Linked DNA regions of Homo sapiens: regions 2 and 3 are each linked to region 1. Evidence: fine-mapped expression QTL. A gene starts in region 1. Each other region holds a variant in brackets. All regions are shown on one strand. Distances are from middle to middle.

Region 1 (4,185 bases):
GTCACCTGGCCGAGGTCAACGAAAGAAAAGAGGAGCAGACTCTCCAGTCCCCAGCCCTCGATCTGTCCTCTCCTTTGCGTCTGCTGCCATCCCCACCAAAGAAAAATAGCAAGGAGAAAAGAGCAGGCCACCACTGGTCTCCCTCGGAGGGGGCAGAACCAAGCAAAAGCCAGCCAGAGTTGAATGTTCCAAATGAACCGATCCGCACGATCACACAAGAAACCCCTCTCCTCAAAACACACGCCCTCTCCTCTCCCTGCGCCATCCTGACTCGGAATAGTTCCGAGCAGTTATCAAAGCCCAAACTGGGAAGGGATCTGTAGGCGCCCAGATGCAGATGAGGGTGGCAAAGGGGTGTCTCGGAAATGCCCAAAATGGGGCTGGAGAGGGCGGGCTGCAGGAGGGGAAGGGAAGAGGTAGGCGTCCATGACGGCCTCCACACGTCCAAAGTCTCCCCGCGAGCAGCCAGCTCGCAACTTGTTTACTTGTCAGCATGTTTTGCTGTTTCCAAATGGAAATAGTTAAACACCTCGGCTGGATCGCGAGCAGTCCCTATCTGTCACCTTCCCTGCCGGCTAAGCGCTGCCGCCGCTGCCACCGCCGCTGCCGCCTCTGCCAAAGAATCGAACCTCGTCTACTTTATTCCACTTGAGCGTGGCCAAACTGTTGCTATTTAGTGGGGAGCAAAAAAAAACAATTTGCACCATCGAAACGAGCCAGCAACTGGTTGGGAGGCGGGCGGTAGCTGGGCCCCGCGTGCCCTCGGCGGCCGGGGTCCTCTCCGGGGAGAGGCACACACACGCATAGCCGGATCGCGCCTCGCCAGGGCCGGAGTCACCTGGAATGCGCAGCCGGAGAGCATCTCCCGAGCCAGAGCGAGCCTGACGCGCGCCCAGCGGGCGGCGGGCAGCGGCGAGCTGGGGCGGGCGGAGGGCCGGCTCCCGGCCGCGGGTGGGCAGGAGGGAGACGCAGAGCGCGGGGGAGGCAGGCTGGGGAGCGGCCGCCTGACTTACATGGAAGTGATATTCCTTGAGATGTCCGTGATGTTGATACTGGCGTTCCCATTGCTGTTCCCTGAATCCTGCCCTTCCAGGAGGGGGAAGAGGTTCCCATCGTCCGGCCGCCGGCAATTGATCTCAGTCTTGCTGCAGACACAATTTGCAGGGCAAGCCAGCACGGAGCCCACATAGTCCAGCCAGACGCTTCCCAGCAAGAAAATCCGCCAGAAACTACACTTGGCTGGGCAAAGAGAGACATCCATCTCCGATCGCTGCTTCTAAAAAAGAGGAGGAGGAGAGGAGAGGGGGGTGGGGTGGGGGGAGTGGGGAGAGCAGGGGGGGAAGGAAACAAAGACGGCGAGGGAGGGGGGAAGGGGGAGGGGGGGCCTCTGCCTTTGAAACGCCGAGCGATCAGATGCAAAATCCTTCAGCGTCTGAAACCATCGCGGACGCCGCCGCCGCCGCCGCCGCCGCCGGGTGGGAGCCGCGAGGAGCGCCTAGTGGCGCGGTCTGCCGGGCATGGTGGCCGGCTCGGCGATCGCTGACTCGCCGGGTCCGGGGGCTCTGGAAGCGAGGCGCGCTCTCCGACTCCGAGACTTTGCAGGGTTGCAACAGACGGTGGGGAGGCAAAAAAAAAAAAGGAAAAGGAAAAAATGGTGCTAAAGTCACCAAGTCCCACCTACTGGGCAGAATTAAAACGGACACACCACGCACCTGCAAAACACACACACTCACTCTCACACATACACACACCCGGAGCCCGAGGAAAGGAAGAGAAGGAAGATGCAGTAGGAGCTGCAGCAGCCGCCGCGAATGGCTCGCCGCGCGGCTGCAGAAATGTACAAGTGCTCCGAGCCTTACGAAACGCACGGGTTATCGGAGCGTCTTCCTCGGCTCCCTCCCTCCCTTCCTCCCTCCCTCCTCCCCTCCCTCGTCGCGGCCTCCTCCCCCCGCCCCCCGCCCGGGCTGGGAGCGGCAGGAGAGCGGAATCTCCCCCTCCCTCCCCTCCCCACACCCGTCTCTCTCCCCGCCTGTCCTCTCCCTCCTCCCCACCCACCCACCCACCCACTCGCCGGCTCGCGGCTGTAGCCGGCACCGCCACCCGCAGCCTCGCGGCAGCCCGCCCGCTCCACGCCTCGCAGCGCGGCGCCCGCTAGCCGCAGCCCGGGGGAAACCGAGACCGAAGGGAAAAAGTTGCATTTGAGATTGCGAGGGTCGGGGCTGGGGAGGGAGAGTTGGCGAGCTGGCTGCACGACACGGAAAGGCGCTCTCCTTTCCACTTTTTGGCCCTCGCGCTACCCGGTTTTGCTGCAATCCGGACCGCGGTAGGAAGTGAAATGAACGTGGCGGAGGTGATTGGGGAGTGCTCCCAAGCCTTGGGTGGGGGGCGCTCCCAAGCCTGGGTGGGTGGGGGGCGCAGGCTCACGGACGGCGACGGGGGGTGCCGGAGCGCACAGACACCCCAGAGAAGCACCCAGAGCCGGGGACCGGGACCGCAGACGCGCAGTCCTTGGTCTGAATGACACTCATTTCCGTAATCTAGAGTCTGGGGCTCTGGTCTTGGCTGGGAGGGGACTGCGGGACATGGCACGCTAGGTGCCCCCCGTGCCCGCTGCGCTTTCTTGGAGGTGGGTTTTGCATTCGGCCTTGAGCAGGCATGGATCGGGGAAGGAAGAAACAGGGGTCGAAAGGGCTGCGCTGGAGAGCCGAGGTGGCCCCGGGCGAGCTGTGCGTGCAAGAGAAATGGCCGGGGGAAATTGAGATGCAAGGGGCATATTTTGGCAAGCGCCACGCCAGCACCGTCAGAGGCCGGCTTCTCGGGCTCAGCTCTCGGGTGAGCTGAGCTGGCTGCCGGGTGAGGGGGCGGGCGGGCTGCTTTCTCCGGATTCGGGGGCGCAGAACCTCCTCCTTCCCTCCCACACAAGCACCCCTTCCTGGTAGGGACGCAAAGCAGGTGCAGCTTTCGACGAGAGCTCAGATCTCATCCGGGAAAGAAGTGTGTGTGGGGGGGGCCCCGCTTTTGCGCTGGTAGGGATTTTTTTCTTAATAAAACATAAAGATGCCAAGTGTGAGCTGTTTGCTGAAAAAAAAAAAAACGAGCATTCGCTGTGGGAAAGGAGAAGAAAGGGTTAGGGGAGTCCGAGCAGGCAGACACACTACAGCATTCACACGCAGAAGAAAGCAGGGTTCTCCTTCCCGAGCTTGGAGGAGGGCAGGCGAGGAAGCAAAATACATTGAATTCAATTCAACTGCATCCAGTATCTGAAAGGAGTCTCCCCCGCCCCCCTGTGGATTCCGATGCAGGTCATGCAACTTGCAGGCAAGATGGGGGAAGGGGTATGCCGGTGTCACCGCCTGCCCCAGGCGCAACCACAAACAGGCCGGTCGCCTTCGGGTGGCACTGTCGCTTGGAGTAAAAACTTGGACGAAAAAAATGGAAGAAAAGAACATGCCTATACAAGGCAGTTTTCCCGACTTCCCGTCACGTTCCACCTTCCCTTGGCCCCAGGGAGATTTTTACCCCCGTCGCCATTATGGCCTTGTCTCCAGACTGGCATTTTGCCCTCCCACCAGCAGGCGGGGACAGAGTGTGAAGACCTCCTTGGACTCTCAAACCACTTGCTACTGGCCCTAGGCCAATCCTGGCTGTCCTTAGGCCACTGGGAATTTCCCTGTCACTTCAAGTGCCATTCTGGGATTGGCTTTAGAATATCTGAGAGTCAGGAAACTGAGGTGTAGTCAGATCCTAACACTTGGCCTCTCTTGGGAGGTGGCAGGTGGCAGCAGAGAAACACAGCCTCTCTCAGACCACTCCTGGGCAGGGAACGCCAAGTGGATTCAGCCCAGCATCAGTGCTCCAGCCTGGAACTGAAATGGTTGTGTCCAAAAGATGCCCAGCCCACTTTTTTGAGAGAGAGAGAGAGAGAGAAAGAAAGAGAGAGAGAGAGGATTTTTAACATGTCAAGCAGAGAAGAAGAGACATCCATAAGTTAGAACAACAAAAACAACAACAACAAAAAACCTTTAAAAACCCCTCTGGATTTGGTAAAAATGCAGATTGTGGAGCAAGGGGCCCTGATGGGCAAGAAGTCTTTCATCCTGACAGTAAAATGGGATTAAGATGGGGTGCTACGTTTATGCTCACACTCTGGGCCTGAGCAGGAAGCGACAGCTGAAAAAGAGGGAA
Region 2 (4,185 bases), 280 kb before region 1:
GTCCTGCATTGATCTGCCCGCTCCTGAGCTTTCCCGCGGCATCCAACCCTCCCTTGCTGCCTCACCATTGTATCTGAGATGCTTGATCCTTTGCTCATGCCTGGTCTTGACCTGAGGGAACTGGGACGAGCCAGGGGATGTGTCACAGCCCAGTGCTGTGCTGCGGTCACACCTGTGGCTGGGGAGGTGGAGGTGAGGATGTGGCTGCTGGGAGCTTGGCTGCAGAAAGGGATTCCCGCACAAAAGAAGAGACAGAGGTGGCTAGAGGTCAGATTCTTGACTTCCAAATTGAGCCTGATTTGTGTTTGGTCTTTTTAGGGTGAGCATTGCATGGCTGAGCTTGGACATATCAGGAGGTCTTTGAGGTGCGTTGAAGAAAGGTTAAGTGACAGTGGGTAGTCAGACAAGGCCCTTTCTTCTACTACCTTCCTGTCTGAAGCTGCTCACCCTTGCCCAGACCTGGGCAGCCTAACCTGATATCCTAAGGATCAGGTTGGTCTCATCCTTTCTTCTACCACCTTCCTATCTGAAGCTTCTCACCCTTGCCCAGACCTGGGCAGCCTAACTGCTATCCTAAGGATCAGGTTGGTCTCATCCAACTGTATGATGAGTCCTCCCCAATATCAAAAAGGCCATCATTGCTTGGGAATCTCACCAACTGTAAGACATGTGATTAATCTCAGATCTAAGCCCAACCATGCTTTCATACACCCCCAAGTCACTAAATGCTACAATGAGAGGAAAGAACGTTGCAGATGTTCTTTTCCAGTCTTTAAAATCACCCTGTCCCAAAAGTTCCAGAAGGAAGTCAGGGATGGTGCTCATCCCTGAAGACCCCTGAAAGACTTCTCTGTCTTAGGAGTGGAGTGGGGTTGGAGGGGGGAGCACCTAGGTGGTGTTTCACAATCATAGCCTTCCAGGAGCAGAAGATGTGCTACTTTAGGGGGCTGCAGAGTGGCCAAAAGCATTTTGAGGTGTCAGGCAGTCCCCCTGTCAGTCCTGGTTCTGCCAGTTTCAAGCTGTGGAAACCTGAGCTAGTTATTCAATCTTTCTGAGCTTCAGCTTCCTTGTGGGTAAAATCTGACTGGTTCTGAGTAAGTGCTTCATAAGTTACATAGAATTATTACTATTAATGCCCCACAGTAAACCCATTCTTGGGAGGTTGGCAACCAGTTCCAGGACCTCATCATGTAATGCTAGTAAAAAAGTCCAGCCTCTCCAGGGCATGTCCCTGGAATGTGTTAGATCGAATTTCACCTTGTTTCTACAAGATCTTATTGGTACAGTTGAGTTTCTCATTCTCTGAGCTTCAGAACCAGCACCTGTCAACCAAGTCTCTAGAATGAAGATCCAGGGAGCGCCTGGCAAGCACCCTGGGTTCGTGAACTGAGTCAGCTGTCAATCTGTGCAGCAAAATCCCGCAGGATCAAAATGTAAGCTTAAGGTCTGACAAAGCTACTGTGAAATCCTGTTGGTGACATTCGAATGCAGGAGGTCAGGGAGCTGCAGGACTGGCTGGTTCCCTGAGCCACCCTAAGCTGAGGCCAGTCCAAACTGGCATCTTTCTGGGCTGAGTTCAGCTCTCCGCATCTGCCCTATACCAGCTCTGACTTCCCTAGAGGCACCAACCCTGGGGTAAATGCCATGAGACTTCAACACCTAGCAGTAAAACATGGAAAACGGAGGCCTAGACTCCAATCGCAGCTGGTTCCTCATTCTGCCCAGCAACCTTTCCATAGATCCCCATAGTCGTCCATAGTCTCTTCCCCGTCAATTCAGATGTTCCAACTCTCCTTGGGTCTTCTCACTAGCAGCACAAGGCCTTGCCTCATTCTTTATAGGAAAAATGGAAGCCACCAGACAAGAACTCCCTCACTTCCTTGCCCTATCACCTTGAAAAGACATTCCACATCCTTTCCTCTTTTTGCCTCCTGCTCTATGGGAAGAGCACTCCCTCCATGAGGCCAATGCTATC[C/T]CTTCCTCCTGAGCTGTGGATACTTTTCCTTCCCATATTCTCAGGGGCCATCTTTATCTATTATCTCTTCTCCCATACACTGATAGGCTCCAAGCATCAGAAAAAAAGAAAGCTCAAATCTCTCCTATATTAAAAATGAAAGTTCTCCCTCGAACCAGTGCATGTCCTCATGGTCCCCAGGACAGCCTCAACCCTTCAGGCATCCCTGTTCCAACTCTTTCTCCTTGGAACCCTCAAGAAGAGATAAATGCCGAGCTTGGTCTACCCCTCACCCAGGCCACTCTAGAGAGCAGGAGCTTCCATTTGGCATAAGGGGGTCTCAAACCAAACTAGACTTAAATAGAAGATAAAGCAACTGAGGGTATATAGAAAAGCACCAACCTAGCCTGATCAACTTCCTGTCAGACTGGAACGTGAGCTCTTCCACATTACTTTACTTGTCTCATCTCTACTGCCTCAATGACTGAGCTCCATCAGGGATTACTGGGGCCCAGTGAAGCATTCAGATCCACCCAGGAGCCTTTTCCCGGCCCGCATTCTCCACTCTTGCTCCATCTCTCCTGCATACAGGGCCTCACGGTGTCCTCTCCTCCTGAAAGGAAGAGGGCAAGTTACAGGGAGCATTTCAACTCTTCTAGCTGTGTCACTGCCAGGGTCCAAGGGTGCACAGATGTGCCAGTTCATCTAAGCATTTTACTCTTTGGCCTCTCCCTCCTGGCAGCCCACATGAAACTTGCCATGAGAGTGTGGCTCACCTGAGTGTGTGCATGAAAGGGAGTGTGTCTCTGAATGACAAGTGTGTTGACCTGTACGCCCAAAGCCCCGTCTTTCCTTGGGCAAGGTCACTTTCCCAACATCCACAGGGAACATACAAAACCACTCCATCCTAGGGACAGCCCCACTGGCTTTGCTGGTGCACCAAAGATAAAGGATCCCCAACCCCACTCTCAGACCCCCATATATCAGCTCTCAAGAGAAGATTTCTGTGAGCCTTGGCTGCTCAGACAACAGAACATTCCCCAGCTACCAAAGGAGTGAGGGTCTCAGTGGCCTGAGTAGTGTCTGTAGAAGTCAGATTTGAATCTTGCTTTCACCTCTCACACTGTGTGACCCTGGATGAACCATTCAACCTCTCTGAGCCTCTAATTCTTTCTCAATACGATGAAAAAGCACTTTACTGTATGAGCCTAAGCTATCTGGAAGACTCTCAATGAAAGCAACCAATGGAACAGATTGTGAACACCTTTGTAAACAAAGAACTTAACTAAGAAACTTCTTTAAAAGAGTAACAGGAAAACAGGAAAAAATGCAGGTAACCTGGAATTTCTGTATTTTGAATGTTTTTGCAAAATTTCCAAATAAGAGGTCTGATTCAGTCATTTCATTAGAAAATAAAGTGTTTATTAAGAAACTATACACTGAACACTCCTATAAGTCTCTGTGGAAACACAACGCCCCATTGTCATAGCACAAGGTGAGGAAAATGGCAGAATAAAAGATGCTGGGATGGATGGAGCCTGGGAGGCTGGAAATGAGGTAATGATTTACAATAATTAAAAAACATCATCCTCAAGCTTACTCCTTAAAGCCACACTTGGGAGGAGGCCCTGGACCCAAAGCATCAGCAGGGCACAATGGGGAACAGCCTGACATGGAGCAATGGGGAGCAGGATGAGGAGAGCTGGAGGGGGCGAGATAAACACACACCTGGAGCCCTGGAGAGAACCTGAACTCCCAGGTGATACTCTGGAGGCTGCCCCAGATACTGGGCAAGAACTTGGAAAGCCTCATGTTTTTAAACCCCATGGAGGCATTTGCAGAATCGGGCTGGGATCCTGACACGAAGAACCACCATCCACAGGACCCAAGAAGTAAAACCCTTAAGTGGGAATCCAAACTCCCAGTTAAATTTGCCAAAGGCATAGACTCTATTCTCTACTAGTGTGCAACACCACCCCAAAACAACGGTGGGTTAAAACAACCACCTTTTTCCCCCACAAGCCCCCCACAGGATGCTCCCAGTTTCATGCTCTCCACCATTAGGTGGGCAGCCTATGCTGACTTCATACAATGGAGGCCCCATGGGCCAGTGGAGCTGGGAGCCAGAAGTCTACTCCACCAATGAGTCAGCAAATACGGGAGAGTTTCAGGCCCTACAAATGTGCCTTTCCTACTGAAGAAGGGAAAGTCACCCCCTTCCCTCTCCTCAG
Region 3 (4,185 bases), 120 kb before region 1:
AAATATGGTTGATGTCCTTATAAGAGGAAATTTGAACGTCAACACACACGCACAGAGGGAAAATCACATGACAACACAAAGAGAACACTGCCATCTGCAAGCCAAGCAGACAGGCCTCAGGAGAAACCATCCCTGCCAACACCTTTATCTCAGGCTTCCAGCCTCCAGAATTGTGAGGAAATAAATTTCTGTTGTTTAAGCCACCCAGTCTATGGTATTTCACTGCTGTGACATTCCTAGCAAACGAATACATGAATTACCAGCCATAGAACAAAATAAATATCCATGAGTCCATATTGATACAAATAAACAATTCAATAAATAAAAGGTGGAAGAATGAAATGCTCTTCCTTACAAGAGAATTCTGATTTTTAAATGTAGAAGGAATGATAAAAATAGAAAAATCACCATTTCACAAATATTACAGTAATAATTGTTTCAGGCAAGAATCATCAATGAATGTTAGAGTGTGAAAGAAGGATGAGAAACAAGCTATTTATGTAGTTTAAAAATATTATACTGATTTCTTACAAAGGGGAAAATCATCTGTTTGCAGCAGAGAAACCTGGCAGACACCACCTTGACCAAGTAATAAAGTCAACACCCCCAGTACCAAAACCTATCGACATCACGCGCCCCCGAAACGATGCACTGAGAGGGCAGAGCATCACTTCTGCAGAGTTCCTGCCAAAAATGCATAGCTAGAAATTAATCATTAAGAAAAAAATCAGAAAATTCCAAATGGAAAGACAGTCTACAAAAAAACTAGTATTCTTGCAAAGTTCCAAGATCATGAAAGACAAAGACTAGGGAACTGTCCCAGATTTAAAGAGAGTGAGATGACACAGGAACTCAACGCAGTGTGTAATTCTGAATTGGATCCTAGACAAGGAAAAAGCATCAATGGGACAAGTGATGAAATGTAATTCACATCTGTACACTAGATAATAGTGATGGACCAATGTTAACAACCTGGTTTCGATCATTGCATCGTGGTTAGGTAAGATGTTAACATCTGGGGAAGCTGGACAAAGGGTGGAAGGAAGTGCCTTGTATGATTTTGTAACTTTTTAAAATATGAATTCCAAACTATTTCAAAATGAAAAGTTAAAAATCTTTAAAAATTAAAAAGAAACACAGATTACTAGTCCTCACCTTAGAGTTTCTAATTCAGTAGACCTGGGGTGGGTATCAAGATTTTGCATTTCTAACAAGTTTTCAGCAGACGCTGATGCTGCTGTTCCCTTTGGAATGCACTATATCAATACTACACAGCCTCCTGCCTCAGCCCACCATGCCCTGAAAAGTAAAAGTGTATTCATTCATTCATTCACCCATTCATTCACTCATTGCGGGCCCTCACAGTCTTAGCTCTATTAAGTATGAACCAGCAGATATTCTCTAACTACTTGTGGGGAATCGGATACTTTCTGTGATGGAGTCCTTCAAAGAAAGCCTTACTTATGGTACACGCAGTTCGGTTGCTTGTTTGTTGTCTGTTCTGTATTGTTTTGGGGGATGGTCACAGAACTATCTTCACATTCCTGGGCATACCCTTCGTGCCAACACCCTCTTCTCAACAGCAGGTGACCAGAAGCCTGACTGGGGCAGGGGGAGGATGGAGGAAATGGAAGCTCTAGCCTGGGTTTCAGAGCCTGAGAGAAGAGAGGTGCCAGATCAATTCGCAGTTTACATTCATTTGCATATGTCTCATAAGGCTCCCATTTATTAGAGAATATTCTCACGTTAGCCAAATGTTTTGGTCAAGTCTGTGAACCCTGTTATCTCCAAATCAGCCTATGAGTGTTTAAGGCCTTTGCCAG[G/A]GCCTGGAAGCATTTATACATCCAGAAAGCACATAAGCTTTGGAAGAAGGAGACATCCTGACTCCTCTCTAACCTGTGGGAGGGTTCAGGCATTCAGCCTGGAAGAGGATGGTACCCAGGACTGGTCCTCACCTCTGACTGCACCAGCAGGCTGGGAGGAGCGCTTGTCCAGCACACCAAGGAACAATCTGGACATGAACTGGGGCTGTGCCATGAAGGGAATACACATGTCTCCTACAGTCCCAGACCATAACTCTTCAAGAAGCGCCCCTTCTGTAAATTAATCTTCACCACAACCTTTAAGGTAAAAGCAGGAAGGTGAAGCAATTTGCCTGACGTCACAGAGCTGACAAGTGATTGAGTCAGAGTCAGAGCCCTGGCAACGTGGTTCCATGACAACTAGCCTAGACTACCTTAACATTATCTGTTAGAACTTACTAGGTTGACCAGAAAATGACTACTGGTTCTAGAACTCTTGAATTCATCTCAGCTCTACATCCTAAGAATCTTAACAATGGCCCACAGCTAGTAAGCCTTTTCTCTGTCCAGACGCACTGCTATGCACTTGGCAGGCATAACTTCCTTTAAGTCTCATGGTAGCTTAGATGGGAGATATTATCATTCCCATTTCATGGATACAGAAATAGAGGCACAGAGAAGTGATTGTCCTCCATCTAGTACTGGCCTTGCACTAAGCCCCATGCTAGGAGCCCAGGCCACCAGATGGGAGGGCTATCTGGGAGGGGCCACAGATGGGACCTGCACCTAAGTCTGTCTGATTTCAGACTGCCTGCTCTTAGCCTCCATGCTTAGCTGCCTGGAAGCAAAAGAGAAACACACATGATAATCACGATGTCTCCACACTTTCACATCAAAAGAGAAGAGCAAGAATCACAGACCAGCTTTGCATCTAGGCTTAGCTGGGGTGAGTTCGGTTTAGAGGGCTATGACTCATCTCTTCCTGCACCCCCAGATAATTGACTCTCTTGAGCGTTTAAGCATCTTGTCACTTGGCATCGTTTCCCTGTCACTGCCTTTTCATCACCCATTGATCCCTTTAACCTAGACTCACAAAACAAGCAAATCTTCCCACAGGGTGACCCTAGCAGGATGGAGATGGGTCTGAGGAAATGACCTCAGGTGAGGTGCTTTCTCTTTGAGTTTCTCTGTGACTCTATCCTCCCTCCATCCTCCTGGGGCCAGATTCCCACTCAATTCCAGGGTAGTAGATTGCAAAGGAGGGAGTACTGGAGTCACCTGGGGGCTTGTTAAAACATAGCTGCTAGACCCCACCCTGGAATCTCTGATTCCGTAGATGTGAGTGGCGCTTGAGAACTTAAGTTTTAACACATTCTCAGGTGAGGTGGATGGGGCTGGTCCATGGACCAAAGGTCACTTTTGAGAACCACTGGCCTGAGGAGCACTGATAACTGACTATGGTGACAAGGGTATCCAGAGACTAACAGAAGGGGCTGCTGCATCTCGTGGGGGCAGAGGAGGTATCTCTGAGATAGCTCTGAGGGCTGAGAAGACGCAAAGTATTGCTTCCTCCTGAGACAAAGGAGAGAACGGAGAAGCTGTATCCACCACATCATCCAACTGCTGCTGCTACCCCACACCTCTCAGGATACCCCTGGCAGAAGGAGCCAGAGTGTCTTCTCCTCCCTCCTGAGCATTCTAGGGTTCCCCCCTCCCTAGGCCCCAGAAGCTTCTCTTTGGAAACAGAAACATTGCTTCAGGGTGCTTCATTTCCTCACCAATCAAGACTTTCCCTCAACAATGTATAGACTTTCCTCTTTAAAAACAGAATTTATTCTCTAATCAGGCCACAGGCAGGGCAACGTTTCAGTCTTTTATGTCAACAAGACCTAGCCTGCCCTTGTAGACCATAAGAGCAAAATATCTCTGCTCTAAAAGCCTCTTCTTCCACTGTGCAGGCCAGGACTCATCTACCTGCTGAAAGAGAGCACAGTGTGACCCAGGAGGGGAAGTGTCATGGGGGCTTTTACTGAGCATTCTGGGGATGATGGAAGTTTCAGACTACATGGGATTTCCAGGGCCTCAAACATCTGCACATTCTCAACTGCCTCCGAAAAGACGGCTCCATCATCCCTGGGACCTCAACGGCAAGAATTTAGCTTAATGCAGCCACATTTCTCCGACTTTACTCTCAGGGCCTCCAGTACGAGTTCCCTTGCACTGACATAAATAAAGCTTCCTGGAGCTGCCACACCCTGGTAATTTGTAGACTGTGAAGTTGACTTCATAAAAACAGATGCTACATACTGCTAGCTCTTTCTGCCTTTTCCCTTTGTGCACGTGTGTGAGCATGCATGTGCATGTGTGTATGTGTCTTATCAGT

The links. PIP is the estimated chance that this variant, and not a neighbour inherited with it, causes the effect.
Region 2: its variant is the best candidate, but not a certain one, in a credible set for the expression of NTRK3 in nasal epithelium (TOPMed, PIP 0.88).
Region 3: its variant is the best candidate, but not a certain one, in a credible set for the expression of NTRK3 in atrial appendage (GTEx, PIP 0.59).

The regions. Positions count from the first base shown.
Region 1 is chr15:88,254,893-88,259,077 of GRCh38, forward strand. It overlaps NTRK3 (neurotrophic receptor tyrosine kinase 3), which reads right to left and starts at 1,847. Exons shown (of 20, transcript NM_001012338.3): 1 at 1,752-1,847; 2 at 1,392-1,594; 3 at 1,014-1,276. The coding sequence starts at 1,261. All of the region lies in intron 1 of NTRK3-AS1 (NTRK3 antisense RNA 1), which reads left to right. RefSeq lists enhancers at 1-528, 529-1,065, 3,406-3,700.
Region 2 is chr15:87,974,010-87,978,194 of GRCh38, forward strand. All of the region lies in intron 14 of NTRK3 (neurotrophic receptor tyrosine kinase 3), which reads right to left. Among named protein-coding and RNA genes, the nearest start is that of MIR11181, 30 kb to the left of the region's middle. The variant C/T (reference allele first, on the strand shown) is at 1,976.
Region 3 is chr15:88,129,936-88,134,120 of GRCh38, forward strand. All of the region lies in intron 10 of NTRK3 (neurotrophic receptor tyrosine kinase 3), which reads right to left. Among named protein-coding and RNA genes, the nearest start is that of NTRK3-AS1, 120 kb to the right of the region's middle. The variant G/A (reference allele first, on the strand shown) is at 1,824.